2 separate regions of the Homo sapiens genome follow, and region 2 is linked to region 1. The links come from fine-mapping of genetic effects on gene expression. Tissue or cell type: whole blood. Region 1 holds a variant in brackets; the other region holds the start of a gene. All regions are shown on one strand. Distances are from middle to middle. Region 1 has its middle 43 kb from the start of DDX51. Region 2 holds the start of NOC4L (nucleolar complex associated 4 homolog).

Evidence for each region.
Region 2: it holds the start of NOC4L, and the variant in region 1 is fine-mapped to the expression of NOC4L in whole blood (TOPMed, PIP 0.90).

What each region holds. Positions count from the first base shown.
Region 1 is chr12:132,097,622-132,105,942 of GRCh38, reverse strand. It overlaps the pseudogene EP400P1. Among named protein-coding and RNA genes, the nearest start is that of DDX51, 43 kb to the left of the region's middle. The variant T/A (reference allele first, on the strand shown) is at 3,890.
Region 2 is chr12:132,139,503-132,147,823 of GRCh38, reverse strand. NOC4L (nucleolar complex associated 4 homolog) reads right to left here and starts at 3,367. Exons shown (of 15, transcript NM_024078.3): 1 at 3,219-3,367; 2 at 2,850-2,970; 3 at 2,159-2,265; 4 at 436-543; 5 at 42-191. The coding sequence starts at 3,335. DDX51 (DEAD-box helicase 51) reads left to right here and starts at 3,505. Exons shown (of 15, transcript NM_175066.4): 1 at 3,505-3,831; 2 at 3,915-4,129; 3 at 4,946-5,096; 4 at 5,402-5,547; 5 at 5,634-5,705; 6 at 5,868-5,974; 7 at 6,218-6,326; 8 at 6,404-6,549; 9 at 6,804-6,993; 10 at 7,089-7,204; 11 at 7,285-7,401; 12 at 7,625-7,726; 13 at 7,900-7,963; 14 at 8,055-8,189. The coding sequence starts at 3,528. RefSeq lists enhancers at 3,285-3,584, 4,514-5,419 and silencers at 3,595-3,644, 3,715-3,914.

The sequences.
Region 1 (8,321 bases):
ACGAGAATTGCTTGAATCCGGGAGGCGTAGGTTGCAGTGAGTGAGCTGAGATCGCACCACTGCACTCCAGCCTAGGCGACAGAGCAAGACTTTGTCACAAAAAAAAAAGAAAGAAAGAAAGAAAGAAAATGAAATTCTATAAATTTTTGCTCTGTATATTCTAAGTTAGAGCTGTAACTTGTTCAGAAACTCTTGACATTGAGATGTGTGTTCAGGAACTTGGAATCTTGGCTTTGAGACCAGCCAGCCCTGACTGCAGGCAGCTGGCAAGGGTGGACTCTGGGGTTCTCATCTTGCACGGCACAACCGTTTAGGAGCAGGCAAATGTGGTGGCATTCCAAGAAAGGTGCCAGGACGCTGCCGCCGTGAGCACCTGCCACAGAGGTGCCTGACTGAACACCACTGGAGTTTCCATGCTGCTGGGGGTTCAGCCATGTGCTGGGATCCCTGGAACCACCCTCTGTAAATGTGGGGAGACTCTGAGGGACTTTAAACCACTATTCACAGCCACAGTGTGTCTTTAAAGTGAAGTGCCTAGAACGCATGCTCTGAGATGGTAAGCTCTGCGTTGCACCTGCACGCAGCATAAGCCCTGAGCTCTGCCTCCCATGACAAGCACCAAAACAAAGAACTGTTACCTCATCATTAATGACTTCAAAGTGCTCCTCTTCCTCTTCTTCAATGTCCAAATCATTCTGCCTAAGATATGCTTGTAATGGTCCATACAGTCTCTCCTTGAAAGCTAAGAAATCCATCATGTTCCCTTGAAAGTGTTGCAAGAAAAACAGTTCAATCAAATACTCCTTGAAGACCTCCTTCAGAGCCTGCATCTCCTGGTGATGATAGTCCAGGCACTGCTTCCTCATCTGTGCCATCTCCGGAGAGGCTGGGGGAATCTCCTCTAACTTCTTGGGAACCTTCTTCATTCCCGTGTTCCCCACAGACGTGAGTGGGAGGCTGGAAAGGCCTGGGGGCACGGCAGTCCTGGAAGGGCTGGTGGGCGGGGGTGGGGACGTCATCCCAAACCCCGCTGCGCCCCCAGCCCCGGGGAGCAGCACGCCGGGCGTCCTCTCGAAGCCCAGGGGCCGGGGCAGCGGCGGCCCCTGCAGCACCTGCTGCTGCTGAACCAGCTGGCCCTGGATGATGCTGCTGATCTGCGGTGGCAAGTTAGCCGTGGTGATGTGGCTTGGGCTGGCCAGGGGCTGCAGGCCGGCCCCACCCGCGGCTGCAGGGCTCTGGGGTCCCAGGTGGTGGATGGTGCCCCCTGACTGTGTGTGGGGCTGGGAGGGTCTCCGCTCTCGGACTGTGATGGGCGTACCCGGGTGCTGGAGCTGAACCTGGGCTCCCTGGGCGATCTGGGTGAGCCCTGACCCATCCTGAAACACAAAGTGTCCACCACTGGAGGGGCTCAAGCTGATCTGCCTCACCAGCACGCTGGCATCCACGAAGTCCCCTGTAGGGCTGCTGCTGCAGAGGCCCAGCCCAGGGCCAGGGGCACCTGCACGCACATTCTGCAAGGCCTGCCCCGGCCCCGGACTGGGCTGCGTGGGACTCTGGGTCTGGACCTGCTGGGACAAGGGGGACGTGACCTGAATGTATGATGGAGACCCATGCTCAAACCGCCGAGGCTGAGCGCTGAACTGGAAGCCTGGAGAGGTGGGGCTGGGGAGCGGCAGTGGGGCCAGCGTGACCTGTGGGCTTCCCTGGAGCCCAGGGCCCACGCCCTGCAGGTCAACATTCATGTTCTGCCCACCCGCAGGGCCCCCTCTCACCATCAGCTGCTGTAGTTGGTGGCTGGGGGATGGCAGTGTGAGGGGCAGGGACGGCTGGGAGCACGCTGGCTGCTCCTCGCCCGCGCCGGGGCAGGCCCCAGGCCACTGGACATGGCGCTGGCTGCTCTGGGAGCTGCTGACGTGCTGCATGACTACGTCTTCAGGAAATGCTCCCTAAACAAATGCAGAAAAGTTAGAGTTGAGTGAGGTGAGCTCCATGCCCGGGCGCCTTTCGGAGCCTGCACAGGTGTCTGGAAAGGTGGCTCAGGAGGGGCCAATGCGGGCCCAGCAAACCCCAGGCACGAGACTGCTACCCAGGGCAAAAAAGGCTCAGATCAGAATATCTGCTCAGCAAGAGATGCTCGGAAGCTTCCCTGCCTCACACTTTTCTCGAACTGAAGTATTCATACCTGCCTAATCCAAGTCTACCGCAAGGGGCTGAAAGTGCTAGCGATGAAGAGCATGGGAGGGGGAGAAGGGAGAGAAGTACAGCACAGCAGGGCATCCCCAGCGGGTGGCAGACGGTGGCTCAGGGTCACAAAGGTTCTCTACGCCCCTTACGTGATCTCATTTAGTTTTCACAGTCATGCCATGGGGTCACTCCTATTGATAGCCCATTTACACAGAGAGACACTGAGGCAGCGAGAAATGAGCTCCCTGGGCTGTAAGGTCCAGCTCTACAGGGCTTAGCGGGTGTTCTCCCCGTGTGCGGAGACGAGAGATTGTAAGAAATAAAGACACAAGACAAAAAAATAAAGAGAAAGCAGCTGTGCCCGGGGGACCACTACCATCAACACGCGGAGACCGGTAGTGGCCCCGAACGGCTGGGTGCGCTGATATTTATTGCATACAGGACGAGGGGGCAGGGTAAGGAGGGTGAATCTTCTAAGTGATTGACAAGGTGAAGCAAGTCACGTGATCACACGACAGGGGGCCCTTCCCTTTTAGGTAGCTGAAGCAGAGAGGGAAGGCAGCAAATGTCAGCGTTTTCTTCTATGCACTTATAAGAAAGATCAAAGACTTTAAGACTTCCACTATTTCTTCTTCTGCTATCTACTAAGAACTCCAAAGAGGAACCAGGAGTGCAGGAGGAGCATGAAAGTGGACAAGGAGTGTGACCATTGAAGCACCACAGGGAGGGGTTTAGGCCTCCGGATGACTGCGGGCAGGCCTGGAGAATATCCAGCCTCCCACAGGAAGCTGGTGGAGCAGAGTGTTCCCTGACTCCTCCAAGGAAAGGAGACTCCCTTCCACAGTCTGCTAAGTAACAGGTGCCTTCCCAGACACTGGCGTTACCGCTTGACCAAGGAGCCCTCAAGCGGCCCTTATGCGGGCATGACAGAGGGCTCACCTCTTGCCTTCTAGGTCACTTCTCACAATGTCGCTTCAGCACCTGACCCTATACCCGCAGGTTATTCCTAGGTTATATTAGTAATGCAACAGAGTAATATTAAAAGTTAATGATTAATAATGTTTATACTAATGATTGATAATTGTCCATGATCAGCTCTGTATCTGATTCGTATTATGACTATTCTTATTCTAACTATTTTCTTTATTATACTGAAACAGTTTGTGCCTTCAGTCTGTTGCCTCGGCACCTAGGTAATCCTTTGCCCACATCGGGCCAAGCTACGAAGTGGTGGAGCCATGGTCCAGCTCCAGGCACACGGGCTCCGAGGCCCATGGGCCTCACTATAGGCCAACACCGTGGACAGGTCCTGAGCCTGCCCCTGAATCTGGGACTTGGACACTATCAACCCCAGTGCTAAAACATCAGTTCCACGGATGTGATCCTGCATGAAGACTGAACACTTGATGGACGGTTTTCATCATTTAATCTGTCCTGAAGGACTCAGTGCATACTGCCTGGTAGAAAAAGGCAAAGGGAATCTGTTCAGAAGTAGTCATTCCAGAGACAGGCTGGAAACACGGGCACAGAGTGCACCTGAGGCACTCCAGGTGTGGCCTGACCCCGGCTGGGAGGAGAGTCCAGCTCCCACCTTCCTACCATGACAGTAGACCCCAACTGCCACGTGTTTTTTAATGAAGGACATGTATTACAGACAAATGCATTTTATGGACAGCTTAGACCTGATGTCTTTTCCATCATCACC[T/A]TCATAGAAATTCAAGGGAAACATTCAAAAAGCTGCAAAGATACCACCCACTACAGAAGCCGCCTCTCCTAACGCCTGATGCTCAGGGACACAGTAGACAGTGCTTACGTGAAAACGGTGCAAGCTCACATCCAGCACGAGGTGTGGCGAGCCAGGCAGGCACGAAGCGACGCTTGCCAGCAAAACCACTATAAAGAGTGCTTGATAAACACACTCTTTATGTTTGATTTTAAATGGAAAAATTCAAGATCCAAAATTATGTAATTTTAAAGATGTAATAAAAAGACTCAAAATGTGTCCACAGGTGGTGGTCTCTGGGTTAGGTGGATTATAATGATTTTTTCCCTTTTTATACTTTTTTATGCTTTCTAGATGTTCTCTAATTACTATGTGGCATTTTTATATCCACACGGAAAAAAAGGCATCTTTTTAAAAAGTGGTTTTCCTGGCTGGGCGCAGTGGCTCACACCTGTAATCCCAGCACTTTGGGAGGCCGAGGCAGGCGGATCATGAGGTCAAGAGATCAAGACCATCTGGCCAACATGGTGATGTTGGCCCGTCTCTACTAAAAATACAAAAAGTAGCTGGCATGGTGGCAGGTACCTGGAGTCCCAGCTACTCGGGTGGCTGAGGCAGGAGAATCACTTGAACCTGGGAGGTGGAGCTTGCAGTGAGCCGAGATCGTGCCACTGCACTCCAGCCTGGCGACAGAGCGAGACTCTGTCTCAAAAAAAAAAAAAAAAAAAGTGCTTTTGCTTACTAGTAAACTCTTCTTCCAGGTGTGCAAAGTTTGCACATGAGGGACTGTAATCTAGTAAAATAATAATTAGAAGGTGCATAGAAGATACAAGGCAAAAAACTATTTGTACATTATTTCTAACTCAGAACACCTTTTCCTACGGAAATGCAATGACTACAGTCTCTTTCTAAGATCAGATAGATCAGTGGCTCTGTACTTCGGAAGACTGTGCCCGCAGGGGACATCAGGCAATGTCTGGAGGCATTTTTGGTTGTCACAACTGATAAGGGTGGGAGAACTGCTGGCATTTGGTGGGTAGAGGCCTGGAGGTCTCTAACCATCCTACAACACACAGCACGGCCCCACCAGGAGGAATCTTCTGGCCCCAAATGTGAACCAGCTGAGGCTGAGAACCCAAGACTGAGGAGGTGGCCCTGTGGGGCTGACCCGCCACACCATCTGCACCGTGTGTCCAGGGCTGAGTGAGAGCATCTCCTTGCAGTCAGGCCACCCAAGCACACAAGGAGGCAGCCTGGCCCTCAGTGGCAGCCAGACTGACCCCGGCTCTTCAACTTATTGACCGGGAAGGGGCCACTGACACTCCTGAGAATCTGGTGAAAGCTGTGGACTGTTCTTACCAAACACACCTCACAGCCACAAGCTTTACATGTTTACACATAAGGGACTCTAAGAACCAGACCCTCAGTTGCCAGTAAGGGAATGAGGCCAAGGGAGCTAGTGTCTCCTCATGGGGCAGAAGGGCAGCTGGAGTCCCCCTGAGAAAGCCCAGCCTGGGCGGGCCGGCCGGCAGGACCAATGGTGGGCAAGAGTCCTAAGTGGACCACAGAAGGTCTGGGGTTAGCAGGCAGTGCCTGGGCTCTGGGGAGGCCAGATGAGGGGAACAGCGAGTCGGAGTGCACAGGAGCCTGTGCTTGTACCTGGGAGGAGGGGCCGGTCCTCTTCCATGACTGCTCCCCGTGACAGGACTCCCACCACAGCAACGCTCAGAAAGAGGACAGTGCACACGTCCCCTTCCCACAGCCCTAGTCAGAGCCTCCCGCCAGCCCTGATCACAACACAAAGGGCTGGCGGTGTCTCCGTGCCTGTGTGCCCTAGGCACACACACTGTCGTCTCCAGACACCGCTTTGGCCGCTGGTAGAGTCTGCATGAGGGCAGTCAACACACGGCCAAACTGGAACTCTCTGCCCCACCACAGGTTTCTGCAGTCTCCATGCAGCAGACATCCCTGGGAGCCCCCAGGCTGCTGGGCAGGGCTTCCTCCTCAGTTCAGATTCTCCTCCACAGACGGTGCTTTTCCTGAGGTGGAGTGCAGCAGAGGACCCTTCCTGTCACCCTACACTGACGCAGGCCTGGAACTAGAAAACGGGCTCAGAATACTCCGGGGGCACAACAGAGCTGCAGCAGGGAGAAGGAAGAGGAGCCCTCCCCGGGCCATGCAGGCAGGCCAGCAACAATCAGAACGCGTGCTGGAGGAGGCGAAGGCCAACCAGCAGTTCATCCGTATTCGTCGTATTAGAGTGAACTTAGTGTATTAGAGTGAATCCCAGCACTTTGGGAGGCTGAAGCAGGCGGATCACTTGAGGTCGGGAGTTTGAGACCAGCCTGGCCAACATGGCGAAACCCCATCTCTACTAAAAATACAAAAATTAGCCAGGCGTGGTGGCACACGCCTGTAATCCCAGCTACTTGGGAGGCTGAGGCAGGAGAATTGCTTGAACCCCTGGGAGGCGGAGGTTGTAGTGAACTGAGATCAGGCCACTGCACTCCAGCCTGAGTGACAGAGTGAGACTCTAGTCTAAAAAAAAAAAAAAAAGAAAGAAAAAAGACAAAGATTTTTCCAAATGTACAAAACTGAAAGAATTCACCACCAGCAGATGTGCAGTACAAGAAATGAAGGACATACTTTAGGAATAAGGAAAACAGATCCAAGGTGAAAATCTGGTTCTATATAGTAAACTTGGGAAGAAGAAAACTTCCTCGACCTGATAAAGAATCTCAGTGGCTACAACAGCTAATATGATACTCGATGGTAAAAGCCTGAAAGCTTTCCCTCTTAAGACAGAAACAAGGAAGGGATGTAATACAGTTTGGATCTGTGTCCCCACCAAACCTCATGTCGAATTGTGATCCCCAGTGTTGGAGGAAGGGCCAGATGGGAGGTGACTGGATCATGGGGGCAGTTTCTCATAGTGTTACACCATCCCCCTTGGTCGCAACAGTGAATTCTCATGAGATCTGGTCATTTTAAAAGTGTGTATCACCAGCCAGGCGTGGTGGCTCACGCCTGTAATCCCAGCAGTTTGGGAGGCCGAGGCAAGTGGATCACTTGAGGTCAGGAGTTCGAGACCAGCCTGGCCAACTTGGCAAAACCCCGTCTCTACTAAAAATACAAAATTAGCCAGGCGTGGTGGCGCACGCCTGTAATCCTAGCTACTCAGGAGGTTGAGACAGGAGAATCGCTTGAACCTGGGAGGCGGAGGTTGTAGTGAGCCAATATCACACCACTGCACTCCAGCCTGGGTGATGGAGTGAGACTCTGTCTAAAACAAAAAAAGTGTGCATCACCTCCCCTTCTCTCTCTTACTCCTGCTCTGGCCATATCGTGTTCACTCCCCCTTTGCCTTCTGCCAAGATTGTAAGTTCCTGAGGCCTCCCCAGAAGCCGAGCAGATGCCAGCATCATGCTTTCTGTACAGCCTGCAGAACCGTGAGCCAATTAAAACTGTTTTCTTTATAAATTACCCAGTCTCAGGTATTTCTTTATAGCGGTGTGAGAACGAACTGATACAGGACATCCTCTCTCAGTACTTGGACTCAACATGGAGATTGTAGCAGCACAGTCAGTCAAGAAAAAGAAATAAAACACAGACAGACTGTAAGGGAAAAAGATTAAAGCCCTTCATTCTCAGGCAAAATAATCATCTCTGAGAAAATCCTGCCAGGCACAATGGCTCACGCCTGCAATCCCAGCACTTTGGGAGGCCAAGGCAGAAGGATCACTTGAACCAAGGAATTCAAGACCAGCCTGGGAAACATAGTAAGACCCCATCTCCACAGAAAAAAAAAAATTAGCTGGGGGTGGTGGTATACACCTGTAGTCCCAGCTACTTGGGAGACTATAGTGGGAGGATCACTTGAGCCCAGGAGATAGAGGTTGCAGCGAGCTATAATTGTGCCACTGTACTTTAGCCTGGGAGACAGAGTAAGACCCTGTCTCAAAAAAAAATTATTTCAAAAAATATAAAATACTCAAGAATAAATCTGATAGATGTGCAAGACCTGTACATCAAAACCACAAAACACTGCAGAGAGAAAATTTTAAAGACATTAATAGTGCTCATGAATCAGAAGACTCAGTATTGTTAATATGTCAGTTCTCCCAAAATTGATCTAAAAATTGAATGTAATGTCAATCAAAACCCCAAGAGGCTTTTAACAGAAATTGAGAAGCAGATTTTAAAGTTCATAAGGAAATGCAAAGAACCTAGAAGAGCCAAAATTATGAAAAAGACAAAAAGATTTAGATTTCCTGACTTTAACGTGTATTATAAAGCCACAGCAATTAAGACAGCGTGGAAATGGAACAATCTTACAGAATGCCAGAAATAGATTCACATATACATGGTTAATAAATTTTCAACAGAGGCGAAGATCATAAAGTGGAGAAAGGAT
Region 2 (8,321 bases), 42 kb before region 1:
AGGCAACAGCATGATGCTGGCGACAGGACCCCATCACCCACCTCGGGGTGCTGGCCAGTGACCCGGGCCACGGCATCCACGGCTGCCTGCATGGTGTGGTAGCGGGTGTCGTCGTAGTCCAGGTACTCCCGGAACTGGGACAGGAGCAGGCTCTGGTCCTCCTCAGGAGACAGCAGGCCTCCCACCACCAACTAGGGGCAAGGACCAGTGAGCAGCCCTGCCCGGCCCAGCATACGCCAGCAAGGTCCAGGCAGGCAGCCCTGCCCCATCGAGCCCCCCAGGCAGACTCCTCCTGGTTGGGTGGGCCACAGGAGCCACAGGAGTGTCCCAGCCAACAGCCAGGCTCAGCTCAGCAGGCCCCGCCCCCACTACGGGGCCATCCTGGGATCTGGCCAGCCAGCCAGGCCCTCTGGGAGTCCCCAGCAAGGCCCTCACCTTGAAGAGCTCTCGGGGGAACAGGTAGTTGCCTTCCCACTTGGACTTCTCCAGGGGGTGCGCTCCTTCCAGCTGCACGAACTTCAGGAGTGCGCTGAGGGCCAGCTCCTGGGAAGGGGGCAGTGCAGGGTGGCTGTGATGCCCTCACCCCACGGATGGGCCCAGAGCTCAGCCCAGTCAGGGAGCCCCTCCCATCTAGGCCCAGAGCTGAGAAAAGGGCGGCCGGGCCTTCTCTTGCTCCACACGCCACCAGATGCCACTCTGGGCTTCCGTGTCCCACCCATGACGTAGAGATGACAAGATCTCTAGTTAAAGAGATCCAGTGCTCACGACAGAGTCTGGCGGGGGAAGGGTACACAGCCCAGGTCTGCTTTATGGGCCACCTGACTGCTCTCTCGTCACCTGTGTCACGGGAATGCCACCATAACCCTTGGGAACAGCTGTGAAAACACAGGCGTGTGATGCCAGCATGGTGCCCAACTCAGACCCAGGCTTGGAAGCTCTCATCTCGGGGTGGCAAACTCAGTGCTTTCAGGGCCCAGGCAAATGACACCACAAAGCAAAAGAGCCTCGTGCGGGATGACAGGAGCACACGGCTGTCTCAGAGCTGTCTCTGACTCTCCCTCCAGCCAATCGCAGCCATGAACAAACTTAGACCCCGTGTTGACAGAACTGATTATTTCTTTCTGAGAAGGTGGAAACTGGTTATTTTCACGTGGTATCTCCCCAACATTTAAAAGTCTGCAGCTCGGCTATAATTATAGACAGACGTGTTGGCGAGGATGTGGAGTATGGAACTCTCAAATGCTGCCAGGGGGAGGGTAAGATAGCGCAGCTACTATGGAAAACAGTCTTGTAGTTCCTCAGAACATTAAAAACACAGCTGCTGTGTGGCCTTGTAATTCCACTGATAAGGCATATTCAAGCAAAAGAAACATCACACAAGAGTTTGTACGCGAACGTTCACAGTCCGCTGTTCGTAACAGCCAAAGGTGGAAACGACGCAAATGCCCAGCAACCTACGAGCGGCTGAACGATACGTGCTGTGCTATACGACGCGCTGCTACTCAGCCACAAAGAGAACGAACTTCGAACACGCCGATGAGTGGAAGAAGCCACATACCGTATGATCCCCCTTATGAGGAGCGTCTAAAAAAAGCAAACCCATTGATCCAGGAAGTAACCACTGATCCAGGAGTGGCTGCCTGGGGCTGGGGGTGGAAAGGGGCGGGATATGGAAGCGATGGTAACTGGTACAGGATTTCTTTTCGGGGCGATAAAGATGTTCTGGGATAGCGGCAACCACTGCACAACACAGTAACAGATGCTAACTTCTCAGCTTTAAACGGTAAACTGTGCCTCAGTTATTCCTCACTACAGATTTTAAGAAAGCTCATAATGCATTCCCATGGCTGCAGACCACAGTGTGATCTGAGCAAACACATCTGTGGACTGGCACGAGGCTTGGTGTGCGTGCTCTATGCAAACACAGAGATCCCCGTGGATGCCACTGGAAATGAACACGGATTCTGCGTCTTCAATATTCACTACAGGACTCGATAGCCATGTTTCTGAATGGGACTGAACACCCACAGGGTGATGCTCCCATGAAGGAAGCAGCTTTGCCTGGACAATTGTGGGAGCCCCAGACCTCTGCTTTGTGGATAACCTGGGAGTTGGGGTGCAGGGGATGGACAAGGATGAGGCCAGCCCAATGACCCACCTTGACCTGAAAGGAGGGGTGGCCCAGGAGCTCTCCCAAGCGATTGCAGCAGCTGTGATAGCGGTGTCTCATCCACACCTTGTACTTCCGTGTGGCTCCCTGGGACCCTGCAGACAGGTTAGGGTGGTCAGCCCACGTGAGGCCCACATACGCCACCCTGGGCCCAGCCCAAAATCTCAGGCCTGGCTCCACCCTCCCATTGTCTTCTACTCAGCCTCCGCAGGTGGAAACAGGTCGCTAAGGCCCCCAGACCTGTGCTGAGACCAGCACATTCCCTGAGCCCTGCAAACAGGAAGAGCACCTCCTACCCCAGGACTGCCCCAGCCAAGCTGCCAGGAGCAGGATCCACATCCCCTCTCTTTACTCCAAGACCTGACGTCCCCAGGATGGGGACATAAAGGAAGCTCCGAGTTTAAGCGACCGTGTCAGGATCAGTCAACATCAAATTACAAAAGGGGTGCAAAGCACACAAAAAGTCGTACCTTGTCCAGTGTTCATCTACACTCAGCTGCAGGGCACCCATGTCACCCCTGCCCCAACGCCACCATCCATCTTCCACGGTGGGCTTGGTGCGTCCTCCCACCAGCCTGCACGGCCTGTGCCAGGGTTGGGGGCGCTCATCCCATGGTGACAAAGCCTCCCTCCGACCCACGGAAAGAGAAGAGCAGCCCCGGGGCCCTCCAGGGCTCACCTGTCATGACCATCTCCTCAGAGGGCAGCTGGCCCACAAACAGCTCTCCCCGCTCCAGCAAGGCCCCGAAAAGACGGCTGCACGTGCGGACTGCTTCCTGGATCTCCTCCTGGTCCTCAGACTGCAGGAGAGGCGGCGGCAGGGTGCCCGGCCGCCAACTGTCACCTTCGCCCCTGCCTAGGCTGCCCCCAACCCGTTCCCTTCCCCCTCGGGACGCCAGCCCCGTCACCCCCGACCCGTGACCCACACGCCTCCCACCCTGACCCCCCAACGCCGTCTCGGAACCTCCTGGGGACCTGCCGCCGCAGCCCCCCATTCAAGTCCCGCTCCCGTGCCGCGACTCCGGCCCTGCGACGCCGCCAGGCCCACCTGCAGCACGGCCAGGATGTCGAACACGGCGTTGGCCTCACTGCGGCTCGCCAGCACCGCCTCCAGCCGGCGGCCCAGAGCCCGGCGAACTCCCGCGGCGCCCGGCTCCCGCTCCATGCCGCCCCCAACACGGAACAACGCGGATTCTCAGCCGCCGGCGCTCCCGTGACGTCACCACTGCGCGTAGAACCCGACGTCATCTCTACGCGCCGTACCCCAACCCCATCTTTTGCGCGGAGCCCGAGTCGCAGGCGTGCCGCCGACGTCATCGCAGCGCGCCACGCCCGAGTCCCAGGCGTGCGGCTGGCCATGGCGCTGTTCTACGTCGCGCGGTACCCGGGCCCCGATGCGGCAGCTGCGGCGGGGCCGGAGGGCGCGGAGGCCGGGGCGCACGGCAGGGCCCGCGCGCTGCTCGAGCGGCTGCAGAGCCGGGCCCGCGAACGGCAGCAGCAGCGGGAGCCCGCGCAGACCGAGGCGGCTGCATCGACCGAGCCGGCGACCAGGAGGCGACGGCGGCCCCGGCGGCGGCGGCGGGTGAACGACGCGGAGCCGGGGAGCCCGGAGGCGCCGCAGGGAAAGCGACGGAAGGCGGACGGCGAGGACGCGGGCGCAGGTGGGCCGCGGGGCGAGCGGGCTCCCTCTGGGGCGCCGGCGACTCGGTGCTGACGCGCTGCCGGGTGGGTGTCTGCCTCGCAGAAAGCAACGAGGAGGCGCCAGGGGAGCCCAGCGCAGGGAGCAGCGAGGAGGCGCCAGGGGAGCCCAGCGCAGGGAGCAGCGAGGAGGCGCCGGGGGAGCGCAGCACCAGCGCCAGCGCCGAGGCGGCCCCAGATGGACCGGCCCTGGAGGAGGCGGCCGGACCCCTGGTCCCCGGCCTGGTGCTGGGGGGGTTCGGGAAGAGGAAGGCGCCGAAGGTGAGCCTCGGCGGGCGGGAGGGTGGTCGGCGTGAGAGGGTAGGCTGCGCGGATTCTTAAGTGCGGCGGTCGCCCCGGAAGATTTCGTTCAGCGAATGTTCCCGGGTCACAGCCGCGCCTCGCTGCCAGGTCTGCAGTTTCATCGCCTAGGGGTCTGGATCCTGCACGTGCAGAGCTCCCGTTTCCTCTGCTAGGCTTGCCCCTGTCCTCCCGCCGCGCCGCGCCAGTTCTGCAAGATGTGTTTGCGTGAACGTGCGGGGTTTCCTGCTGTGCGCTCACCGCCTCAGGAGTAAGTCAGAGGCCGTTCTGCAAGCTCCTGACCGTTGGTGTTTTTGCTTAGCACGTGTGGTTTTCGGTAAAGAGATTTCCGGCGAGACAGGTGAAGAAAGCGAGAAGTTTGACAGAGTGCTCGGGCACCTTAGGTAGGGCAGGTGGAGGAGGTTCTCTTTGAGTTGGGATGCAAAGACTTGAAGCCAGGTCAAGGTTGGGGGTTGGGGGTGCCAGGCAGAGGCCTCGAGGCAGGGACGCCGGCGTGGCTGGGGCAGGCGAGCGCCAGGTCACAGGACCTCCTGGCTGCGGGAGGGTGGGTGCCACTGTGGGTTGATGGGAGGCTACAGAGTGAGTTTGCTCAGGGAGTGGCATCTGCTTTTACTGTTTAACTTCTGAAGGCTGTATGGAAAGCGCATCCTGGGGCTGAGAAGGAGCTGAAGACGACAGAGGTTTCCCCAGCCTCCCTCCCCTAGCTTTTTCCACCGTGGGCTTCTGCGCGAGAGCCTGGAAAGCGCTCACCTGGCCTCTCTTTCTTTTTGATGGCAGGTCCAGCCTTTCCTGCCAAGGTGGCTGGCTGAGCCTAACTGTGTCAGAAGGAATGTCACCGAAGACCTGGTTCCTATCGAGGACATCCCTGACGTCCATCCTGACCTGCAGAAGCAGCTGCGGGCACACGGCATCTCGTCCTACTTTCCAGGTGCCCCAGCCCCGGGCAGGCAGCTGAGGGAACACCTCCCTGGGCACCCACACACAAGGCTGTGAGTGGCCGTGGGTCAGGCGTCCCTGCCACATCGGTGCCAAGTGTGGTCTCAGCACTCTCAAGCTCATGGTTCCCACTTGGGTCTCCTGAGGCTGGCGTTCCTCTGGGCCTTGGTGCCATCCCTCTGGGGAGCGGTTCCCAGGCCTCCAGCAGAGCAGCCCAGCCCAGAGGTCACAGGCAGGGAAGCGGCAGGCCTAGGCCTAGGCGTAAACACGACTTCTCTCTCGCCTTTCCTCATCCAGTCCAGGCAGCTGTGATTCCTGCCCTCCTGGAGAGCGCAGCCTGTGGGTTTCTGGTGGGCAGAGGTGGCTACCGGCCTAGCGACCTCTGTGTTTCTGCCCCAACAGGCAGTGGGAAGACACTGGCCTTCGTCATCCCTGTGGTGCAGGTCTGTGTGAGGGTCCCCTTTCTCTACAGCGGGTGTGCAGAGGACAGGTAACAGCCTTGCTGACGCAGGCGCTCCTTCCCCCTCAGGCCCTGCTTTCGAGAGTGGTCTGCCACATCCGTGCCCTGGTTGTGCTGCCCACCAAGGAGCTGGCCCAGCAGGTATGTGGACCCTAGACCTGGAGCGTGGCACCGCCCGCCTCAGCTTCCCTGCTGAGTGCACAGCGATCAGCCCCTGGGGGACCCAGATTAGATCTGGGGTCCTTTTTGCTGCAGTAGGTGGACACCAGCTACCTCCAGGCCAGTGACAGACTTCTCCTGCAGGTGAGCAAAGTTTTCAACATCTACACAGATGCCACACCTCTGAGAGTCTCCCTGGTTACGGGACAGAAGTCTCTGGCCAAGGAGCAGGAGAGCCTCGTCCAGAAAACGTAGGTTGTGTCAGGGTGCGGGTTTTTCAGGGGGTCCCTGCTCAGCCCTGCAGGTGGCCTGAGGCACCGTGGGAGCAGAGGAGGGGCCACCATCTTTAACCACCTGTTCCCGTGAAGAGGAGGAGCTCCCACCGGCCCCCTTCCCATGTGGGGTGGAGTCGGGGCTGTGGGGTGAGGCAGCGTCTTGCTATCCGGAAGCCCTTGAGAAAGCTTCCTTCTCTCGAGCTGCTCTCTGGTCTGTAGAGCTGATGGGTACCGCTGCTTGGCTGACATCGTGGTAGCCACCCCCGGCCGCCTGGTGGACCACATCGACCAGACCCCAGGATTCAGCCTCCAGCAGCTCCGCTTCCTGGTAGGTCCCCGCCCCAGGGGCCTGGGCTTTGAGCTCAGGGCCGCGCCACCCAGTCCCGGGCTCCCTGTCTCCTGCAGATTATCGACGAGGCTGACCGGATGATTGACAGCATGCATCAGTCCTGGCTGCCGCGGGTGGTGGCGGCCGCCTTCCAGAGCGAGGACCCCGCGGACCCCTGTGCCCTGCTCCAGCGAAGGCAGGCCCAGGCTGTGACAGCCGCCAGGTATCCAGCAGCACGCCCAGGTGCTGGCCTCCCCTGAGCAGAGTCCTCTGCACACAGCTCTCCTTCCTTAATGCCCAGAGATAAGGGTGGCTTGAGCTCTGGTGCACAGAACCGCATCGTACTGTCACGTGAGCTGGACCCACCTTGCTCCTGGTCTGCGGCAGTCTCTACAGTGCGTAGCATGAGGAATCCTGTTCCCTGGAGGTTCGGGGCAGCCACTGGTAGGGTGCCAGCAACACCCCCTTCTCTTCCAGCACCTGCTGTCCCCAGATGCCCCTGCAGAAGCTGCTCTTCTCAGCTACTCTGACCCAGAACCCTGAAAAGCTGCAGCAGCTGGGCCTCCACCAGCCCCGGCTTTTCTCCACAGGGCTAGCACACAGGGGCCTGGAAGATACAGATGGGGACGGGGATTCGGGGAAGTATGCCTTTCCTGTTGGGCTCACGGTGAGTGGGATACCGTGTGGGCAGAGGGTTGCACTGGGAACCTGGGGCCCCTAACCAACCCTCACCTCCACCCCGACCCCCTGCCGTCCCTGTAGCACCACTACGTGCCCTGCAGCCTCAGCTCTAAGCCGCTGGTCGTCCTGCACCTGGTCCTGGAGATGGGCTTCTCGAGGGTTCTCTGCTTCACTAACTCCCGAGAGAACTCCCACAGGTGAGGCCCCGGCTGGGCGGGGGTGGCAGAGGTGGCCTCTGGTCCCAGCATCACTTGGCCGCAGCCTTCTCTCTGCCTAGGCTCTTCCTGCTGGTGCAAGCTTTTGGGGGTGTGGACGTGGCTGAGTTCTCCTCGCGCTACGGGCCTGGCCAGAGGAGGATGATCCTGAAGCAGTTTGAACAGGGGAAGATCCAGCTGTGAGTTCCTGGGCAGGGGCAAGGCCTCTGTGGGGTGGGGGTGCCCACTCCAGGGTCAGCCTGGGGCTCTCTAAAAGGTGCTTCCTTCTGCAAATTGGCTTCCTGTGCCCCAGCCCCATGGCAGCCAGTTCCCAGAAAGGCCTGAGCTGCCCCCCGCAGGGCCGGTGCTGCCACGGCCCCTGCTCCTGGCACGTCGGGCCCACAATGCTGCGTGTCCCGGCAGGCTCATCAGCACGGACGCCACCGCGCGAGGCATCGACGTGCAGGGTGTGGAGCTGGTGGTGAACTACGACGCCCCCCAGTACCTGAGAACCTACGTGCACCGGTGAGCGCTGGCGCAGCGGCCACTGGGGGGTCTGGGGCTTTGTGAGCTCCTGGGCGTTGATGTGGGACCGTCTTGACTGGCGTGGGGTGGGGTTGGTGTGGAGAGAAGCTGTCGTTCCGTCAGACTCTTGAAGGCTCAGGGGCCAGTCTGGAGATAGCTGCGTTTGATTCCAGGGTTGGGAGGACAGCTCGCGCTGGGAAAACTGGACAGGCCTTCACACTGCTCCTGAAAGTGCAGGTGAGGCTGCGAGGGTCTTGGGAGTTTCTGCTGTTGGTGGGTGTTAAGGGGCTGGCCCAAGAACCCCCTTCCACCATGAGCTTCTCTCCAGGAGAGGAGATTCCTCCGAATGCTAACTGAAGCTGGGGCACCTGAGTTGCAGCGGCACGAGCTCTCCAGCAAGCTGCTGCAGCCGCTGGTTCCTCGGTACGAGGAGGCCCTGTCCCAGCTGGAGGAGTCTGTCAAGGTAAGGGCACCAGAGTCCGGCATGAAACCCTCTGGGGAGGGCGTTTGCAGAGAGGGCGTCGTCACCACACGTGGAGAAAAGAGGGAAAAAGAGGAAAGCGAGAAGGCAACAGAGGGTCACACAGGTTGTCCT